3 separate regions of the Homo sapiens genome follow, and regions 2 and 3 are each reported to be linked to region 1. The links are microRNA targets in miRTarBase. Many come from high-throughput screens and were not tested one by one. Region 1 holds a microRNA gene; each other region holds the end of a gene's coding sequence.
Evidence for each region. The annotated mature microRNA hsa-miR-6820-3p reads UGUGACUUCUCCCCUGCCACAG and lies in region 1 at 2,636-2,657, shown strand. An mRNA with a match to its seed (bases 2 to 7 or 8) in the 3' UTR can be bound and repressed. Matches are read on the target gene's strand: a 7mer-m8 pairs with bases 2 to 8, a 7mer-A1 pairs with bases 2 to 7 and ends in A, and an 8mer does both.

Region 1 (7,194 bases):
TCCTTGCCTGCTGTAAGCTCTTGTACAGCCATAATGGGACTCTGCACTTGGTAGGTGCAGGTGGAGTCTCACTCTGTCACCTAGGCTGGAGTGCAGTGGTGCCATCTCGGCTCACTGCAACCTTCACCTCCTGGTTCAAGCGATTCTCATGCCTCAGCCTCTCGAGTATCTGGGACTACAGGCATGTGCCACCACGGCCGGCTAATTTTTTGTATTTTTAGTAGAGACGGGGTTTCACCATGTTGGCCAGGCTGGTCTCAAACTCCTGACCTCAGGTGATTCACCTGTCTCAGCCTCCCAAAGTGCTGTGATTAGAGGCGTGAGCCACTGCACCTGGCCAGAACAACTGTTTGTTGGGTAGGTTTTGGATGGGGTTTCAGTCTGGTTCATTAGCACCACCTGGTGGCTGATGATGTTTGTCACATCTACTTCTTAACTGGATGGTTGATGTGTTTCTCTGTAGAAGCCATGGTGCAAGAAAAATTAAATTACTTAAGGACACATTCTTGCACATTCCATGTGCATAATAGGTGCGGAATGAGTGAATGCCCTTGAATTATTTATATTTTGAAAGAAAGCAGGCACATGCAGATCAGGTATTTTGCCACATTCTTTAAAGCTTTATATTTTGGGAAAGTTTAAATACTTATTAAGAGAGGATATAGGGAAAGTTAAATACTTCATCTCTGCCCTTGGGAAATTTTCAGGCTTTTGGGAGTAATATAAATCGAAATATTTAGTAATAAAATTAGTAAGCTGGTAGCTCTCAGACTAGCTGATTATCAGAATCATCTGGGCAGTTTTGCAAATGCAGGCTCTCAGGCCGCTTCACTAGAGATTCTATTCCGGGGGTCTGGGGAAGGACCCAGGAACCTGTATTTTTTAGCATGCTCTCCTGTTAATTCTGGATTTGTTGGTGTGAACCTGAGCTGGAATCATCAGGGGTGGCTTCCTAGAGGAGATGGGCCTAGAATTGGCATCCCTTTGCTTGGTGGTAGAGTCCCCACTGTGGGCCAAGTGTTATGCTGGGGGCTGGGCCTCCGTGGTGAATCACATGTGGTTCTGGGCCACTAGGAGCTCATGGTCTAATGTGGAAAGTTTCCAAACAAGTAGTTACAGTTCAATGAGATTGGTGCCAAGAAAAGTATATGCAAAATGAGTCCAGGTACTGAAGAGTCAGCACACGATTTCCAGGGTGGAGACATCTGAACCTCTCGCAGGTTTTTAGGGAGAGGAAGAGCTTGTAAGAGCACACAAAAGGGAAACAACATGGCGCATCTAGGGAACCAGAAATAGTTTGGTATGGCTGGAATGTGGAGTAAATACAGGAAAGTAGCACGGGACTGTGCTAGGAAGGCAAACAGGGACCAGACTGCACTCTGGCCTGATAGCCAAGGGGAGTCATGACAGTGTTGTAAGCAGGTGAGCCCCCTGACTGCTGGCCTCAGGTGAAGGGTGGGGAGGGCTGGGCAGGAAGGGCAGGGCCTCTACTGAGGTGTTGTGTCTATAGAGAATGGAAATGATGCCGGGCATGGTGGCTCATGCCTTTCATCCCAGCAATCTGGAAGGCTGAGGCAGGCGGATTGCTTGAGCCCAGGAGTTCGAGACCAGCCTGGGCAACATGGCGAAATGTTAATTTCACCCATCTATACAAAAAATAAAAAAATTAGCATAGCTGGTGGTGTATGCCTGTAGTCCCAAGCAGGAGAATTGCTTGAGCCTGGGAGGTGGAGGTTGCAGTGAGCCACGATCTCCCCATTGCACTCCAGTCTGGGCAATGGGAGTGAAACCTTGTCTCCAAAAAGTAGAGAGAGAAAATAGAAATTGAAATGAGGTGCACTGGGCACTGAGGCAAGGCTCTGGGGTTGGAGCAGTTAGAATGGTGTGCCTTTGCACATGTCTCCCTTTCCACCAGGACATTCTGCTGTGGCCGCTGGACTCCGGAGTCTGTGATAGGCCTCTGCCAGGGAAGATCTCTGGCAGTGCCCCTACACACCACTCCCTACTGTGCCTGCCTACCTAGAAGATGACGTTTCTAGGTGGGGACCAGGATGCCGTTCCACCCTCACTGCCTGTTGGGCCCTTCTCCCTGGGTTTGTAGTCTCCCTAACACCTGTCCCTATCCCTACAGGATGTGTGCCCCTGTGATGGTGGAGCTGGAGGGGGAGACAGATCCTCTGCTCATTGCCATGAAGGAACTCAAGTAAGTCACTCAAATCATGGTTCACTTCTCCAAATCTCTGGGAGGCATCTGTTGGGCTCTCTGTTGCACCCTTTGCTCCCACTTGCCTGGCTGGAGAAGTTGATGCTTATTCCTACAGATCCTTAGGAACAGCTCACCAGGAAGTAGGAGGAAGAGAGAAGAGGAGGCAGGGAAAGTGGGAGGGCACTGATGAGACATGGACGTCTTCTGGCTGTTGGAATTTCCCTGTTCCTGCTGCAGGAGGCCTTACCAATATTCTGTCATTCTTCCCCCTCTTGTCTGATATAAAAACTTTCTTTTTCTTGTAATTGCTTTCTTACAAAGTACACTCATCAGCCCCAAGAGGCTGCTCCTAAGACTTCTCTTTGCTTGTGTTTTGCACACAATCTGTTCCTTCTGCGGCAGAGCTGGGGTCACCAGCCCTCATGTACTTGTGACTTCTCCCCTGCCACAGGGCCCGAAAGATCCCCATCATCATTCGCCGTTACCTGCCAGATGGGAGCTATGAAGACTGGGGGGTGGACGAGCTCATCATCACCGACTGAGCTGGAGTCATCTTCCTGCCCTTGCCCCATGCCCAATTTTCATTCTCACTTTATATGTGTAAATAATAAAATATTCAACTTTCCAACCCCCTTCCCCTCTGCTTATCTGCAATGTCACCACCTGTTGCTTCCCCGTTACCGCCATGCTGCGTGGAGCATGCACCTATTCCAGTGGCCCTGTGACTGTCAGCTCCTTAAGAAGCACCAGGGGCCCTTAGCCCCTTTGGATCCCCCACATCCTTCCCTCCATCTCCCTGTTCCCCAGAGCAAAGGCTGCTGCAGGGGAGACACCTCAGCTGCCTTCCAAGCAGACAGACAAGTCTTTGTGCCCAGGGAGCTGGTTGCCACGGAAACCCCCAATTTCCTTTCCAGTGGGGACTGGCTGCAGGGGCTTCTCCCTTCTCAGGAGTATCACAGAGCAGGTCTCATCAAGCCACCCATTGTTTCCTAAGGACCTGCTTCGAGCCTCTTATCGTGGGCTCGGATCCCCTTTCAGGAGCAGTGCCCCAGCAGGAAGCGTGGGGGTGTGCTGATCTCCCACCCTCCCCAGGCAGAGCCCTGCTGGGCAAGTCAGCAGCTGGAGCAAGGACCGAGCACCTGCCTACCCCTGCCCCCATGGCTCTGTCCCCACTCCTCCTCAGGACTCTGCCCACACGCTGTCCTCTGTGGCCCACCTCTTTGGTGTGCCACACCCATGCCTTCTTCCTAGCCTCTATAAGATATCCTTTCCCTCCTATTTGGGGCTGGTGATCCCCTGAGGCCTTGGGGACATGGTGCTGGGGTGGTGGTGCTCCTGGGTTCCAGGTGTTACATTAAGTCAGAGCTGGAGTTCCCCCTTCCTCTGCCTGAGGTTCTAATGGGTCCTCTTCCTTTCTCCACCCTGCTTACCCAACCTGAGGTAAGACCAGTCACACTGGCTCCTCCCTCCTAGAGGGGGTCAGGGGGAGGGTGTATATTGACATGAACAGGGATAGAGGGTAAACTGGCTCCCTGAATATGCCAGCCTTAACCTCCATTCCACTGCCAGCTCCCCTTCAAAGAGGAGGAGCTGGGCTTCCCTAACCTCTGCAGGAGGCAGGGCCTCCAGGCCTAGGTGCAGCCTGGCCCTGGGATGGGATGTGGGGAGTGAATGGTGAGGATCTGCATTGGTGGGAGGGGTGTCCGCTGCCCTGGAGAAGGGTTAATTCAGGGAGCAGTGGACTTCACACTCCCATCCACCCTCCTCCAAGCCTGTGGAATCCTTTAATCAAGTTGGGTGCTGAAATTTCAGCTCTGAAATGCCGCCTTTGTGCTGGCATCCAGGCAGCCGCCCCAGAGTGCGGGGGTCACTTTCTCGGCCCCATTTCTCTAAATGGTCTCTTTGTTCCCTGCTGGGCTGCTCAGTATCAGATGTGATTAAAGGGAGATGGGGTTTGGGCTGGGGAGGAGGGGAATTGGGGGTTAACCCTTAGGGGATAGAGTGCAAGGGAAATGGGACAGAAGGGGTGTTTTTCCTCCTGTCTTCCTCTTCCCATTCTCCTCTTTTGGGGAGTCCCCTGCTATTCAGCTGTCTGGGCCTGGCTTTTGACTTCTCTTGAATAAAATGTCCCGGTCACCACTATTGGTTCTGTTTTCTTAGGGTTTGGGCATAGTCTCTTGAGTCATTTCCAGAAACACCTGACCCTTTTTTAACAAGTGGAGCTCCTGCCTTCCTGAGGCCTGTGCACACTTGGAACCTTTGGTCTAAGGGATGCACACAACCCAGGTCTTCTGACTTCCTTGGGGTCATTTCCCCTCCTTCCACATCCTCAGTGATTTCCCACTCACTCTCATGAGATGTGGGGTCTTGGAGGTGATAGTGTCATCTTCCGGATGTGCCCCCTGCTCCCCACTGTGCCAGCTCCATATCCCTCATCCCACGGCGAGCAGGAGTAGTGAACAGACCACAAATGGACAAAAGTCCTGCCTTTCAATGAAGGGGAAAGGGTGGGTTGTAAAGATTATAAACACATAAGGTTAGTACTGATTGATCCATGACAAAATTCTAGAATAGGTCCCTCCATGTTTAAAAGTGCTTATATAATAAAGAGGAGATCGGGCACTAGCATAGGGTGTCTAAGAACCAATATTGCCAAATAAGTTTTTTTTTCGATGGTTACTGGTCCAGTAGGTTGAGAGAATGCCAGAGATCAGTGAATCTTGATTTTGACAAGGCATCAGTAGTCTCCATGCCACTGTGACAGAGAAGTGTGTGCTTCATGGTGATGTAATTAGACAGTTTTAGAACTGATTAGACAGCCTCAAGAGTGGAGATAATAGCTGGGCGTGGTGGCTCACACCTGTAATCCCAGCACTTTGGGAGGCTGAGGTTGGCAGATCACGAGGTCAGGAGATCAAGACCATCCTGGCTAACACAGTGAAACCCCGTCTGTACTAAAAAATACAAAAAATTAGCCAGGTGTGGTGGCGGGCGCCTGTAATCCCAGCTACTCGGGAGGCTGAGGCGGGAGAATGGCGTGAACCCGGGAGGCGGAGCTTGCAGTGAGCCGAGATCCCGCTACTGCACTCCAGCCTGGGCGACAGAGAGAGACTCCGTCTCAAAAAAAAAAAAAGAGTGGAGATAATAGGCCAGGTGCGGTGGCTTACGCCTGTAATCCCAGCACTTTAGGAGGCCGAGGCAAGCGGATCATGAGGTCAGGAGATTGAGACCATCCTAGACAACATGGTGAAACCCTGTCTCTACTTAAAAAAAAAAAAAAAAAATTAGCTGGGCGTGGTGGTGCACACCTGTAGTCCCAGCTACTCGGGAGGCTGAGGCAGGGGAAGCACTTGAACCCAGGAGACAGAAGTTGCAGGGAGCCAAGATTGCAACATTGCACTCCAGCCTGGCAACAGAGCAAGACTCCATCTAAAAAAAAAAAAAAAAAAAAAAAAGAGTGGAGATAATAGGACTGACAGTGGAGAGAGGCGTTTAATGCTGTACACAGGTGTCCCTCTTCATTTCGACCTTTATTAGTGACTTGAATGAGGCTATTCAAGTTTGCAGATACATAAAGCTCTAAAGGAGAGCTAAGTTCTAAAAAGTTTAATACAGGTGGGGAAATGGGTCAAACCCAACAAGGTGAGATCTGTTAAAGATCAGTGTAAAGTCCTGCTTTTATCTAAAACAAAACAAAAACAGCATACATACAATTTGGATATGACTTTGCAATGGATATTGTCTAAAAGATCGGGGTTTCGGTTACCATCCAGCTTCACGGGAACCAGCAGTTTTGGGGAGGTTGCTTGAAGAGCTTCCATGATGCAGGTCCTAGATGGAGGGATTTTGGCCACCCTGGGGACTGGGCTACTTCTTGGTGCCCTGCCTCTCCCCTGGTCCTGACTAGGGGCTGGAGACCGCAGATGGAAGGAAGGGAGCTGAGGATGCCCAGTCTGGAGCAGTGGAAGATGCATTGCTCCAGATACAAAGCAGAAGCAGGGGCTGCAAACCACAGGCAGGTGGAGGGGATGATGGTTAAAAATGCAAGCCTTGGAGTCAGAGCTGGGTTCAGATTCTGGCACCAGCACTTCTTAGCATCAGCCTCGCAAACTTCAGTTTCCCCATCTGGAAAATTGAGATAACGATCGGACCTACCCCTTCACTGGCCTGAATGACATAAAACCCTTGGTGGAGCACTTAGTAAATGGCAGCTGGATATAAGCTGTTATGAGCTGGGTATGAGGAAGAACTTCCAACCATCGGAGTTGTTCATCAGTGGAGCAAGATGGCAAAGAGTCTTTGGAGTTGTGTGCTTGTGAGGTGGAGTGGTCCTGGCCTCTGGGTGCAGTTTGGACTTCTGCTGAGGAAAGAGCTCTTAGGGAGTAGGCGCTTAAGGAGTAGACTGTCTGACATCCTTGGTCTGGACTTGGACATGGGCACCTGCTGTGAAGGCTTGGCTAGATCCTGGCGTGGGCTGCTGTGTGTGTGCTGGGGGAGGTGGCAAGTGGGGGGATGCAGCAACACAGGGCCTATCCACACATCCTGAAGGACAGGCCTCTGACTGCAGGCAGCACGGTGTCACCCTCAGCCCACCTCCTCCTCTTCAGATACCTGTCTCTTGAATTCTTTGCAAACTCCCGTCTGCTGAGTGCTGGGTGAGCAGAGGGGCTGCTTGCAAGGCAGTGAGTTCTAGCTGAGCCAGTTAAGAGTGAGTGGCCCCCCTGCAGTGTGGGGCATAGCCGCCGGGCTGGGGAGAAGTTCCCATCTGAGGCTTCAGTCCCTGAGCTCAGATGGACCCCACTGGGATGCCAGCTGTCCTAACACTCTCCATTGTTCCCACTTTCTTAGCAGGGAGAGAGACAGAAAGAGAGAGAGGAGAGTGGGAGGGGGGAGAGAGAGAGAAAGGAGAGGGGGAGGGGGGAGAGAGAGAGAGAAAGAGAGGAGAGAAGGGAGGGGGGAGAGAGAGAGGAGGGGGGAGGGGAAGGGGG
Region 2 (7,173 bases), not on the chromosome of region 1:
GTAGCCCTAATGAGCAATTGAAGAAACCAGTAACCGTGTCCAAAGGCACAGCAACTGAGCCTCTCATGCTAATGTCTGTGTTTTGCCAAACAGAGAGTTTTCCAGCAGAAAGAACCCATGGGAGCAACATAGCCAAGATGACAAACACTGGGCTGCCTGGTCCTGCCACTCCTGCTTACTCATATGCAAAAACCAATGGCCATTGTGACCCAGAGATACAAACTACCAGGGAGCTGACTGCAGGCAACAATGTAGAAAACCAGGTGCCTCCACGGGAAAAATCTGTGGCATTGGCCCAAGAGAAACCAGTGGAGAATGGTGGGTGTCCTGTGGGGATTGAGACTCCAGTCCCAATGCCCAGTCCCCTCTCTTCCAGTGGGAGCTCACTGTCTCCCAGCAGCACTGCCTCCTCCTCTCTAACATCCTCTCCTTGCTCTTCGCCGGTACTCACTAAGCGTTTATTGGGGTCATCAGCTAGCAGCCCTGGCTACCAGTCATCGTACCAAGTAGGGATCAACCAACGGTTCCATGCAGCTCGCCACAAATTTCAGTCCCAAGCAGATCAGGACCAACAAGCCAGTGGCCTACAGAGCCCTCCATCCAGGGATTTATCCCCCACCCTCATAGACAACTCTGCCGCCAAGCAGCTGGCCCGAAACACAGTCACTCAGGTGCTCTCCAGATTCACTAGCCAACAAGGGCCAATCAAGCCAGTCTCTCCCAACAGCTCTCCCTTTGGCACAGACTATCGAAATCTAGCCAACACTGCCAATCCAAGAGGTGACACAAGCCATTCACCTACTCCAGGGAAAGTGTCCAGTCCCCTGAGCCCCCTGTCTCCAGGAATCAAGTCCCCAACCATCCCCAGAGCTGAGAGAGGAAACCCTCCACCCATCCCACCCAAGAAACCTGGCCTCACCCCTTCTCCATCTGCTACCACTCCATTGACCAAAACTCATTCCCAGGCAGCCTCTTTGACCACTGCAGAAGACCTTGCCAGCAGCTGCTCTTCCAATACTGTTGTAGCAAATGGTAAGGATGTTGAGTTACTTTTGCCTACCAGCAGCTAGTCCCTAGGAGGGAGTCTCCACGTTTGACATTCCATCAGATTTCGTCCAAAAGCTCAGTCAGACTTCTGAGTCAGATTATGTTATTTATTTTGATAGTAGCTGAAACCATCTGTATAATACATTTAGTATATTTCACCATTTTGTATTTTTTTAAGTAGAAACTGAGTAGTTTGGATTTTTATGGCTCACATCTTTTTACTGAAGCCAGAAAGGCACCTCAAAGATGTCTCAAGCTCAGCAGTCACCGTCATGTTGTGATGAAGAAAGCGAATCACCAGGTGGTGATTTGCTATCTATTTGAGAACTAGAATCACTCAACACTCATTTTGAATTATGCAGAAGTGGTTCATGCAGATTTTTATTCCAGATGAACATGTTTTAAAAGTGCCTGAAATATGACTGCCATATGAATGTGATTCTGCAGCAAAAAACACAAAATAGATCATTTAATTACAGAAAATGAGATCCTCTGTGAATTCTGAATGTTAAAAACCAACACTGCTTTTAATCCTCTTTTAATGTTTTAATACAAGCTTTGTGTTCTGAAACAAGGCTGCATAAGTAGAATGGGAATCCTTCTAAAGGTGGGTGTGAACTCACCACAAGCTGAGCTTTATAGAGCCCTTGAGAAACCCTCCTGAGCACTAAGCAGTTGGGGTGCTGATTTTCTTGTACTTTTGAAAAATTAAGTCACTCCCAGTTTCCTGCATAAGTTCTTGAACAGAATGAAATCACATCTCCATTCAAAAAATGTCTCAAGCATCTACTGTTGTGTAAGGAACTTCTGATTCTGATTGCTGTTACTTGAATAGGAAATGGTTACTCATTCTGTATAAAAGTTTTGCAAGAGAATGAATTTTTTATTCTGTAATCAAAAAGCAATAACTTGAAATTCACTCTGTAATATTATAGGTCAGTCAGAATTATACAAGTTTTACCAAATTGTTACACTTATTCTCCAAGCTGCCAGAACCTGGTATCTGTATCTGTAAAACCAAATTAACTTTTGCTTAAATGGGAAGTATACATATATCTGTATAGATACATTACCCCTTTACATGTTTAACATACACACACTTAAACACATAAATACTAGTGTGATTATATCTTTGGAGTTTGCAATATAGCATAAAGGACAAGTAGAACTGCACATTAAGATTACCTACCGAAGCAACTAGATGTGGCTGGGACACAATCAAAGGAGGAATTTTGTCCACAGGAAGGTGAGGAAATTCCAAATGAAGCCTAGATCTTCAGTATCATAAAAAGGCAGAGCTGGCCAGGCACAGTGGCTCATGCCTGTAATCTTATCACTTTGGGAGGCTGAGATGGGAGGATCTCTTGAGACCAGGTGTTCAAGACCAGCCTCATCAACATAGTGAGACCCCATCTCTATTAAAAAAATAAATAGGCAGAGCTAAACTAACCCCAGTGTCACAAAACTCAACTGGTCATATAAATGAGTGAAACAGGCCTCTCACACAAGCGATGTAAAACAGCTGGGAGCAGTGGGAGCTGTGGCAAACTAAAGTGCCCAAGCCGCATTTAAAAAGGGCATCTGTTCAGCTCCATCTGCTTGCTGCGGTGCAAGAATGCTAAACCAGGATTACCAGTTCTTCACATTTTTTGAAATCCAAATTTTCATGAGAAACATTCTCATTTTTAAATATCAAGAAGTGATTTTAAAATGTTTAAATGGTGCTGGTTAAACAAACACGTCTGCAGCTGGATTTAGCTTGCAAGCTGCCAAGTTGCAACCTCTTTCATTCTAGAAACTTCTGTCATTTTCATCATAGCAAGTCTATGCGGACAAAAGCCTCCAAACTTTCCAACTGTGTAGGCCAGTACAGCTGGCAAGGTTCATAGAATATAATGGCTATCCCCCTCTGCCAAATAAGACTATCCACAACCCAGCTCAGACACAGTGGTTATATGATTTTGTGTCCATACAGGAGAGGCCTTGGTGTCTTCACATACATTCTCTGAGCCAACATCTATCCAGCAGCCCTGACCTCCTGCTATAATTTAAGTCTATTTCCTTTTAATCTAATAAGAGTTGATAGTAAAAAGGCAGGTGATGGAAATCAGTGTATAAATCACAATGGAGTATATTGGCAACTCCACAGCTTATAGTTTGATAAAGGCAAATACATGAAAAATAAAAATGCTACTAATGCCCCAAGGTGTCTATCAAAATGATGTAGGGGGTATCTTAAACTGTCCAAGGCAATCATGCATTGAACTTTATTCCTATGCAGAGCCAAAACGAATAGTGTTGATAAAATAGCTAAACTTTCTAAACTGGAGAGGAGGCTACAGTGCCAGAGAGTTATTGTCTCTTTTGCTTTAAATGGTAATCTTAAAAGTTGCATTGTGCTCTTCCTTTGTTTTGGGATAGATATATATAGAGAGAGATACTATAAGGAAGTTTATTTCTTAGGAAGTGCACTGAATAATGTATTTCTTTTACAGTGTAATATGGGGGTGGGGATATGCGAAAGAAATGTGTATTTTTGCTAGTTGCCTACCTTCTGAGATAAATAAGCACAATCTTGCAATGGATCCAATAACCCAGTTAGGTATTATAGATTAGTATTTAAGTTTGCTGTAGATTGTGTGTGTGTGTGCTAAGTAAAAGTTCCATGATTCACAATTTTAGTATTAACCCATGTTGCAAAAGCTGTTACTGGCCAACAGATTGTAATGATGTGTACCATATAACACAAGCATTAACTAGGCATTAACGTTTGTAAAGCCAAATATACCATGCAGAAGTCTTCATTTTTATAGCAGACTGCATTAAAACAAGTTAAATCTTGCTGTTTGGGGGGAAATAGTCTTGTTTGTACAAAGTGAAAAATGGCACAATTTGGGCATATTTTGTTGGGAAGAGGGGGTGGTGTAGAGGGAGCACTTGACTGTGGCTTTGACAAAACAAATGAAGTCAATGACCCATCCAGGTTAGACTCCATAAGGAACTAAGACATTGATTTTCTTTAGAGTCTTAGAGCTGGAAAAAGCCTTTACAATAATCCAGTCTGTGATTTTTTAAACCTTTTGGTGGTTCTGGACCTTTTTGAGAATCTTAGAAAAGCCATGGAGTTTATCCCTAGAAAAATGAATATGCCTATATGCAAAATTTGTTTGATGGCTTCATAGGATCCAAAGACCCTGAAGCCATCCATGGCTCATGTATTTCTGCTTAAGAAAGCATAATCTTGTTCTGCTCTCTCATTTTACAAATGATTAATGCATCCCTTTTCAACTACTCCAGCGCTGTTGCTGCTGCAATGTTAGCAAATGCAAGCCAGAGAGAAGCACTTGAAAATCCTTTGATGTCTAAAAAATGTTCAAATAGTGTGGATGTTTACATATCTGAAGTTTTCAGCATTTAAGCAAATTAATGATCATTTCAACAAATACTAGCATATCCGGTTTCCCTTAATAGCCTGTCAGCAGTGCTGCCTTGTCAATTTGTGTGTGTGTGTGTGTATGTGTGTGTGTGTGTGAATTCATAAGGAGTGCTTCTGATGCTTAGTCCTTGAAATGGAACTTCAACTGTCTTTCAAAACACTGGCTTCAAAATAGGATGTGTTTTCCTAATGAATCAGAAGTGGGCAATGAGCATTGTTCCACAGGAATAATTTTTAATTTAATTTCTATAAAACTAGTTGAGAAATGAGAGCCTGTCCACCCACCATTTGTGTATCAGTGGCCAATTCATTAGTAAAAATAAAGGAGGGGAAAGGAGACTGGAGTAGTGGTTCTCAAACTTTACTGTGCGTAAGTATAACCTGGGAAGCCTGCTAAAATAAAGATTTCTGGAGATTAGATCCTCAGACTAGCTGATGCAGCTAGTCTGTTTTGAGAAACAGTCCTTCATAGCCCTTACCTGTTCTTTCACAACAACTTGCTATTTGCCTCTGACCTAAGGAAATGTCTTAAGCTCCTGAAACTGGTTTGGCAGAATGTCAGTGATATTCAGAGTCAAGAGTGCCTACTTGAGTACCAAGCACCATGCTAATGATTTCACATACATATTACCTTATTAATCCTCACACGGGTGCTGTGAGGTATTATTATCCCCAGTGTAGTGATGAGGTAGTTGAGGGCCAGAGATCTGTGCAAGGGCCCTTAGCATATGACAGCCAGGATTTAAACCTTAGTGCTTTGTTCTTTCACTACCAGTATTTCCCAAATGAGAGTCTCTGGGGAGGAGCAGATTCCCAGGCTCCTCCCCTGGCGATTCTGATTTCAGTAGGCAAAGGTGGAGCTCTAGATAAATGCCTTGGTGATTCTTCAGATAGAGCAAGTTTAGAAAATGCATGCGGGACACCATGCTGCTCCACAGCCACCCCAGAAATGGATCATCAGACCTAATCAATGCCAGGAGACCTTCATCAGGTCAGATAAATGGAACAAAAATAAAACATCATTAATTCCCCTCAAACAACATGTTTTTTAAGTATCTAAGATGAACCAGAAAGCAAGGTGCTTATTAGGGAAGACACAAGTTTAATCCTGTTCCCTGCCCTTAGGGTACTCACAATCTAGTTGGGGAAACAAAACATTAACAAAATGATACATAGTGAGTCCAGAGGCAACAGTTTGATAGAATAATGCAGGCGAGCTTTTAAAAACCACAGGGAGGGCCAGGCGCGGTGGCTCTTGCCTGTAATCCCAGCACTTTGGGAGGCCGAGGCGGGTGGATCACGAGGTCAGGAGATTGAGACCATCCTGGCTAACACGGTGAAACCTCGTCTCTACTAAAAAATACAAAAAATTAGCCGGGTGTGGTAGCGGGCGCCTGTAGTCCCAGCTACTCGGAAGGCTGAGGCAGGAGAATGGCGTGAACTCGGGAGGCGGAGCATGCAGTGAGCCGAGATAGCGCCACTGCACTCCAGCCTGGGCGACAGAGCAAGGCTCTGTCTAAGAAAAAAAAACCATACACAGTTATTGAAGATGGTTCTGGTAAAAGCACTCTGGTAGCTCAGAGGTAACAGAGCTCTTTGTGGGCAGGAAAACATTAACTAGAAAGGGAATGAATGTCTTTTCTCCTCTCTCCAGGGCATTATTTACTTGGAGTTCTGTAACATGTCCCTGTGTTTGCTTTTTGTTTTAATTGGCTTGTCTTGATTCTAGGATAAGGTCAGAGACGGAGGCACAAGACGTCCCCAAGAGGTGAGTTCTGTTTCAGGGAGACTGACAGACACCAGTGGGTGCTTTCTTCAAGGGTTGGGGCTGACCTAAGAAGGAGCTCCCAGGCCACAGCATTCTGCAATACACTGTCCAATAATTTGTAGGGAAGATCTAGGAACATGCAAAAGGCAGTTTGAAAAAGGACCTGGTTGCCAAAGTACCATATTACCCATCAATGTCCTCTCCTACCCATTTCCCTTTTTCACACCCTCTAAATCTCTATAAGCAAATGCGGAAAATGCAAACTAAGCTTTGAACAGAATCAAATGAGTCCCTCTGGGACACTTGCAGGGGACTTATTTCTTCCGAAGGATGTGACAGCAGCTTCTCCCAATAGTGGCAGCGTTTGTTTCACTGTTAGACTGGAGGAGCACAAGGAGCATACAACATGTGGCTCTGTCCACACCACTGTGAAGTTGTTGGTTCTGAGAAATTACTGGGGGGAGTGTTAAAACAAGATTGGCCTTATCTCTGGGGAGTCACCTGTTTAACCTGACAAGAATCCTGCTCATTAACTCAATGTGTTAGACACTAGGATGTGCCACATGGGTTCCCTTTCAGGAGTGAAATTTAATTCCCTAGGTGCAGGGAATGCTGACAGTAAGTGGCCCTCAAGATATAACCCCTTATAGGAATTACCTTCACTGAAAGAAAATCAGCTTGACCAAAGTCACAGCTCCTTCCCTGGACAGCTCATATATTAATACAAAGACTGGGCATGGTGGCTGACACCTGTAATCCCAGCACTTTGGGAGACTGAGGCAGGTGGATCACTTGAGGTCAGGAGTTCGAGACTAGCCTGGTCAACATGGTGAAACCACATCTCTACTAACTAAAAAAAAAAAGCCAGGCATCGTGGCACAGACCTATAATCCCAGCTACTTGGGAGGCTGAAGCAGGGGAA
Region 3 (7,189 bases), not on the chromosome of region 1:
TATCCTCCTGCTACCGCCATTCTCAACCAGGGGCAATTTTGACATCTGGGGACATTTGGCAATGTTTGGAGACATTGTGGTTGTCACAGCGTGGCGGGGGGGGGTATGATTGGCATCTCCTGGGTAGAGGCCAGGGATGCTAAATCCTTCTGCAAAGGACAGCCCCTGTGGCAAAAAATTCTCTGGCCCCAAATGTCAATGGTGCCATTAGAAACCTTGCCCTGGCCAGGCACAGTGGCTCATGCTTGTAATCCCAGCACTTTGGGAGGCCGAGGCGGGTGGAGCACGAGGTCAGGAGATCAAGACCATCCTGGCTAACACGGTGAAACACCCCCACCCTGTCTCTACTAAAAATACAAAAAATTAGCCAGGCGCGGTGGCAGGCAGCTGTAGTCCCAGCTACTCGGGAGGCTGAGGCAGGAGAATGCCGTGAACCCGGGAGGCGGAGCTTGCAGTGAGCTGAGATCACGCCACTGCACTCCAGCCTGGAAGACAGAAAAAAAAGAAAAAGAAAAAGAAACCTTGCTCTAATAGAAGCTTTCTGGTAGCACCAAAGGCCTCTCTGTCCTTTGTAGCACTTGCCTTGGCTATAATTTTGCATTTATTGGTATGATTATTTGCTTACTACCCATCAAGTCCCAGGATGCCATTTCTTGGCTGTGTGACCTTGGGCCCCTGGGACTGCCTTTCAGAACCTCCATTTCCTTCATCTGCAAATGGGATTGTAAATATGTGATAAATTCAGAGTTGAGGTTAAGACCACAGGCTCCAGAGTTAAGACGTACCTGTGTTCAAGTTGCATCTCTGCTAGTGGTGAACTTAGGCAAGTCACCTGATGAACCTCAGTTTCCTCCGCTGTGAAATGGGTCTAATAATTCCCTTCCTCATTCAGAGGGTGAATATGGGAATTAAAGGAGCTCATAATGGTGAAAATTATTTTATTATTATTAAATCCACCATCCAACAACTGGTTTTCTTTGAGCCCTAAGTATGTTCCGGACTTGGTGACTATGTAGTGGGTATTATGGGCTTAACGGGCAATGTCTGCCTTGCAGAGCCCATCATCTCATGATGTGGGAGGGGTCTGGCCTGGTTCATCCTCCAGCACTGACTTCTGACACTCCCACCCCACCCCTGCCCTCTTGCAGATCTGTGCCATCATTGGCGGGACCTTCACCGTCGCCGGCATCCTGGACTCATGCATCTTCACAGCCTCTGAGGCCTGGAAGAAGATCCAGCTGGGCAAGATGCATTGACGCCACACCCAGCCTAATGGCCGAGGACCCTGGGCATCGCCAGCCTTGCCTCCAGTGCCCTGTCTCCTTTGGCCCTCAATCTGGTCCCAAATCTGGCTGTGTCCCAAAGGGTGTGTGGGAAGTGGGGGGAAAGTAGAGGATGGCTCGATGTTTTGCAGCTACCTCTTTTCCCCGTGTTTCTTTTTAGACAAATTACACTGCCTGAAGTTGCAGTTCCCCTTTCCCTGGGGAGCCCCAAGAACAGAGTCAGGCAAGGGGTGGGGAGTCCAGGGATCTTGGGGACCCCTCCTAGGAGAGCTGCAGTCTCTTCCCTCAGGGGAACATCCCAGAATGCATATCGATCAGCTCTCAGCCAGGCTTCGACAATCTCGCAGCCCCCACTAGGTGGACACATTAATGATTTGGTTTCTCCCCTGGGCAGCCAACCTGCCCCAGAGGCACCAGACCTGGGCTTTCAGCTTTGGGACCAGGCTGCCCAAAGGTACTCCTTTATACACCCGGCACCTTCCACGAAAGATGGTACTTCCCAAGCAAGCCCCTATGATTTGTCACTATAGATGGAACCCTGACTTCTGCCCCATCCCTTCCTGCCCAACCTAGAACCCAGGCCTCAAGTCTTTACCCCACCCCTTTCTTGTTCTTCCAAGAAGCAGATGCCCAGTTGCTCAGCAGCAGCGGTAGAGACTTGAATCTGCCCACCAGTCACAAGGCGGGTCACAGATTCCTCTTCCTCTCTTCTCCTCGTTCCTCTGAACCCTCCACCAATGTGCCTCAGCCTGTGTGCTGTGTGGCAACAGCATTCTGGTTCCCACTGCCAAGATCTCCCACCACTCTGCTGGGATCTGCAGTGGCAGGGAGTGGGGGTTGTGTAAAGGGGAAGTCATCTTTTGAGATCCAGATAGACATGGTTTGTGCACTTACGTCCAGATGGGAAGCATCCTTCCTGCAACCCTAAAATAATCATGCAGCCTCTCAGACGGACGCCATCGGTCCCAAGGCCTTAGGTGGAGGAAGCAAAGCAGGCCAGGCCTGTCCTGTCCGTGGACCTCTACCTTCTGGACTCCCTACGGGTGCAGAGCACTTGGGTTTCTCTACAGCCATCGTGGCCCACTTGACACTGTGCTCCTCCATCAGCTGGTCACATGCCAACACGTTCCCAGCCCCTGAGGCAGCTCCAGGGTGCCCCACCTGCTCCTGAGGTGGGTCCCTACCCTGCTGCTCCTCTTCATCCTTTCCCTTTTGTCCTGAAAGGGAGGAGCAATGGTCCAGGCATTAATTCCACCCAGGGAATTTTAGCTATGCCCTCATGTCCCAGGGAGAGAGCCACACGCCTGTTTTCCATTTATAGCAAGATTGTTTGCATACTTTTGTAATGAAGGGGAGTGTCCAGTGGAAGGATTTTTAAAATTATCTTATGGATAGCTCAAGTCTCTGCCATTTGTAATTTTTGGCTCTAAGCTCCGATTGGAGACGCTTCTCCTTGTGCATGTGAGTTGACTGATGTTGTGAGTGTAAATGCATTTGGTTATTTCTGGTATCGGTGGCCACTTGGATGGATTTTTTTACATTCTGTTCCCCAGTTACAGGAAGGAGTCCCTTTGGTGTGTGAATATGTGTGCCTGTAGAGGGTGGGGCAGGGTGGGGTGGGGATGGAAATGTGTGGCATGCACATGAGTTGAAATTCTTTTATGCATTTTTTTGAAGAAAAAAAAAAAAACAACTCTGAGGACATAGGGGATGTCAGTTTCCTATGGAAGAGACACCTCTGACCCGTTATTCTTATAATCAAAATCTGAAGGGAAAAAAATGTTTTAGTTCTTTCCCCACTCGTTGGGTTCAACTAGATTAAAAGGCTGATTTTCAGAAATATTATGGTGTGATTCTTTCTACCTTGACTGGGGCTGGGTGACCCAAAGGCTGGAATCACAGCCAGAATGGAATTCACTTCTAGAGGAGAGAAGGTAGAAGAGTTGAAAAGGAGATCTGTGAGGATGATCAGAAAGTCAAACCCCGGCCAGGCACGGTGGCTCACGCCTGTAATCCCAGCACTTTGGGAGGCCGAGGTGGGCCAATCAGGAGGTCAGGAGATCGAGACCATCCTGGCTAACATGGAGAAACCCCGTCTCTACTAAAAATACAAAAAATGAGCCAGGTGTGGTGGCGGGCGCCTGTAGTCCCAGCTACTCCAGAGGCTGAGGCAGGAGAATGGCATGAACCCAGAAGGCAGAGCTTGCAGTGAGCCGAGATCGTGCCACTGCACTCCAGCCTGGGCGACAGAGCGAGACTCCATCTCAAAAAAAAAAAAAAGTGAAACCCCCTTTGGCCAGGTGCAGTGGCTCACACCTGTATTCCCAACACTTTTGGGAGGCAGAGGCGGGTGGATCACCTGAGGTCAGGAGTTCAAAACCAGCCTGGCCAACATGGTGAAACCCCATCTCTACTAAAAATACAAAAAATAGCTGGGCGTGGTGGCAGGCACCTGTAATCCCAGCTACTCAGGAGGCTAAGGCAAGGAGAATCGCTTGAACCTGGAAGGCAGAGGTTTCAGTGAGCTGAGATCGCACCATTGCACTCCAGCCTGGGGGACAAAGCGAGACTCCGTCTCAAAAAAAAAAAAAAGAAAAGAAGAAAGAAAGTCAAGCCCCCTTAGATTAAGTCATTCCTTTATTGAGTCCCTACAGAATGTTCTTGGGTCTGTCACCTTCTAGCTGTGCAGCTTCAGTCCAGGTCCTTAACCTCTCAGTGCCTCAGATTTGTTGGGTGAAAATGAGGATAGTAATAAAACTACCACATAGGGCTGTTTCAGAAATAGAATCTATAACGTGCACAGAAATTATATTAGAATGAGATTGTCTATGTAGAAGAGTGTTTATTGCTGGTACACAGTAAGTTTTCACAAATGGTGATTGGACCATTATGAGCATTCCCAAATAGGATATAATCTTGAGAAAAGACTAACTTTAGAGCTTTGAGCTAAGGGCTCCATAAATGAAAGGTGATTCATAAATTCTTCTTGATTTCAAAGGACCTGGCACTCCTTTTTCAACCCTAAGCTCAGCAATGAGAGATCATCATCAGCTATGAGCAATGGACTTCCATGGATCTTTCCCATCTTGCTGCCAAGTCCTACAAGACTTTCATCAGAACAGCCCTAACACGGATAAACACACCAGGGATGAATGTGGGAGGGAATCAGTCTGTGAGAAATTCTTAACTCTCCCCATGCTCTCGCTCTTACATCCTGATACTTGAGTTATGTGTGTTCCCAAACGTGTTTATACCAGTTGTGCTTTTATACTGGTAGGATGTGATTTGGGGAACTATTAGTTAAACCAATGAGCTACAAGAAATGAACCTAGTAAAACTAAGTTGAATGCTTTAGAGAGACTTGATTAAGGTGAGTTGTTACCCCTCCCAACTCAAAATGCTGCTGAATGAGAAGTGAACAAGACAACTGTAAAAGATTTGGGAGGCCGGACGCGATGGTTCACGCCTATAATCCCAGCACCGGGAGGCTGAGGTGAGAGGATTGCTTGAGCCCAAGAGTTTGAGACCAGTCTGGGCAACATGATGAAACCCCGTCTCTATAGAAAAAATACAAAAATTAGTGGGCGTGGTGGCCTGTAGTCCCAGCCACCTGGGAGGCTGCGGTGGGGGCAGGGGCGGCGGGGGGGAAGTGGGGGGAGTGGTGGAGGCTGCAGTGAACCAAGATCTAGCCGCTGCACTCCAGCCTGGGTGACAGAGTGAAACTCTGTCTCAAAAAAGAGAGAAAGAGAGAGGGAGGGAGGGAGAGAGGAAGAGGGAAGGTGGGTGTGGAGAGGGAGAGAGACAGAGAACGGAACAACTGAAGATTTTTGGTTGGTTTATGTAAGGAAAATGGAGGGGAACACCGATACAGGTTTCTCTGTAAGGTAGAGCCTTAGCCCAGGGTCATTGTCGAATGTGTTTTACGTTGGCATACAACATTTAAGGGATGGATGCCATTTTTATTATTTCTCCTTTCAATGAACTTTTCCAATTGTCTAACCAGATGTGGATTACAGTGGTTTCATATAAGAGGATTTCTAAATCAGGATTACAGAGCAAAACCCTCCAGGGGTGCGTGACAGGTTGGGAGCTGTGGTGGGTCCAGGCAGAAATGGCTTCCCTGGGAAGTTGCGGAAGAGGCGTCTCTGGAGACGTGCTTCGTGAGGAGAGAAGCTGAAGTGTTGCAAACAACACTGGTTGGGGTGGGTGAAACCTGGGAAGAGGGGGTGAAACCTGGGAAGAAATGGGGTGTGGCACTAGAGTTCATAAATAGTAGCTGTGGTTAGTTTTTTTTTTTTTTTTTTTTTTTTGAGACGGAGTCATTGCCCAGGCTGGAGTGCAATGGCGCGATATCGGCTCACTGCAACATCTACCTCCCAGATTCAAGCAGTTCTCCTGTTTCAGCCTCCTGAGTAGCTGAGATTACAGGCGCCCACCACCATGCCCAGCTAATTTTTGTATTTTTAGGAGAAACAGGGTTTCACCATATTGGTCAGGCTGGTCTCGAACTCCTGACCTCAGGTGATCCACCTGCCTCAGCCTCCCAAAGTGCTGGGATTACAGGCGTGAGCCACTGCGCCCAGCCTGTGGTTAGTTTTTATTACTATATGTTACAAATAATTTTTAAATTCTTGCCGGAAACAATGTGGGAGGCCACTGGAGGTCTCAATCCCTTCTTAAGAAACTGGTCCTTTATTCCAGAAGGTTCATTAGCTGCTGCGGCAGTTAGATGCAGTGGTCCAGGAACGTGAGTGGGGATGTGTGTGGACAAGAATACTCACTGGAGACCCTTTTTTCTTGCCCTAGCAGTTGTTTCCTGTCAGTTATGGAGTGATGAGGTCACGCACTTCATTCTGGCCAGTCATTAATATGATTTGGCATTCTCTGCATGCCAGGCAAGAGTGACTGCTCTTCAGGCCAGATCTTCCTTCGAGATGGATGTTATCTCCTTTTTAGGAAGGAGGAAACAGAGAGACCTCGTAACTTGGCATGGCCACACAGTGAGTCACACAGTTAGTAAAGATGGAATTCATACCCAGGTCTGCCTGACTCTGGGATTACGAAGAATTACATGGTTCCACCTCAGTCCCAAGGTCATCTTTGCTGTGCCAAAAGGGAAAACTGGAAATAGGGGTGGTCAGAGCAGGAGGTGCTTTTTTTGGTTTTGTTTTTCCTTTAAAACAACCTGCAGAGAAAATCTAAATTAAACATTCGCAGGGACAGCGTTCTTACAATTTTTTAAATCTTCAAAATGTAATTTTAATTACACAAATAACACAGGCTCATAAGCCCACTGGAGGAAAATTATCAAATACTAAAAAAAGTAAAAGGGGAAAAACGAAAGTCACCCGTAATCCCACTAATCAGAGATGATCATTTAATGATAACATTTTAGTGATGCCTTTTGATAAGCAAAATGGGATCATACTGTTCATATTATTGTATAGCTTAGCCCTCACTTAACAGACATCTTCCTAGATTAATAAATACGGATCGCATTATTATCTTTATGGGCTGCAAGATAAATAATAACCATATTGAGCATCTAATGGTAGATTATGTCCATCCTTTGTTCCCATCTCACTCAGAGCCTCAGTTTTCTCACCTGTAAAAGGGACAATTCATACTGTTATTTAACGGACTGAAATGAGGTAATGCTTGTAAACCTGTTAGCACAATGCCTGACAGTAAATGCTCAGCCCATTAAGAAGAGCCATTATTATCCATCTAATAAATAAATAAATTCCAACATTTATTAAGTTCTTCCTCTGTGCCAGGTATTGTGCTAAGGGTTCATTTAATCCTGACACCAGGCCGGGTGTGGTGGCTCACATCTGTAATCCCAGCACTTTGGGAGGCTGAGGCAGGTGGATTGCTTGAGGTCATGAGTTCAAGACCAGCCTAAC

Region 2: the mRNA of CTTNBP2NL is a reported target of hsa-miR-6820-3p. Seed matches in the 3' UTR shown: 7mer-m8 at 1,758-1,764.
Region 3: miRTarBase lists ERGIC1 as a target of hsa-miR-6820-3p. Seed matches in the 3' UTR shown: 7mer-A1 at 1,957-1,963.

What each region holds. Positions count from the first base shown.
Region 1 is chr22:37,964,968-37,972,161 of GRCh38, forward strand. MIR6820 (microRNA 6820) reads left to right here and starts at 2,596; the gene lies at 2,596-2,657. POLR2F (RNA polymerase II, I and III subunit F) reads left to right here. Exons shown (of 5, transcript NM_021974.5): 4 at 2,132-2,203; 5 at 2,658-4,345. The coding sequence ends at 2,748. RefSeq lists enhancers at 1-438, 2,672-3,172, 3,555-3,849, 6,779-7,194.
Region 2 is chr1:112,456,343-112,463,515 of GRCh38, forward strand. CTTNBP2NL (CTTNBP2 N-terminal like) reads left to right here. Exons shown (of 6, transcript NM_018704.3): 6 at 1-4,822. The coding sequence ends at 1,070. MIR4256 (microRNA 4256) reads right to left here and starts at 5,491; the gene lies at 5,428-5,491.
Region 3 is chr5:172,949,561-172,956,749 of GRCh38, forward strand. ERGIC1 (endoplasmic reticulum-golgi intermediate compartment 1) reads left to right here. Exons shown (of 10, transcript NM_001031711.3): 10 at 1,149-3,123. The coding sequence ends at 1,256. It overlaps RPL26L1-AS1 (RPL26L1 antisense RNA 1), which reads right to left. Exons shown (of 4, transcript NR_026682.1): 4 at 5,222-6,468. It also overlaps a transcript of RPL26L1 not described here. Among named protein-coding and RNA genes, the nearest start is that of RPL26L1-AS1, 6.2 kb to the right of the region's middle. RefSeq lists an enhancer at 5,511-6,710.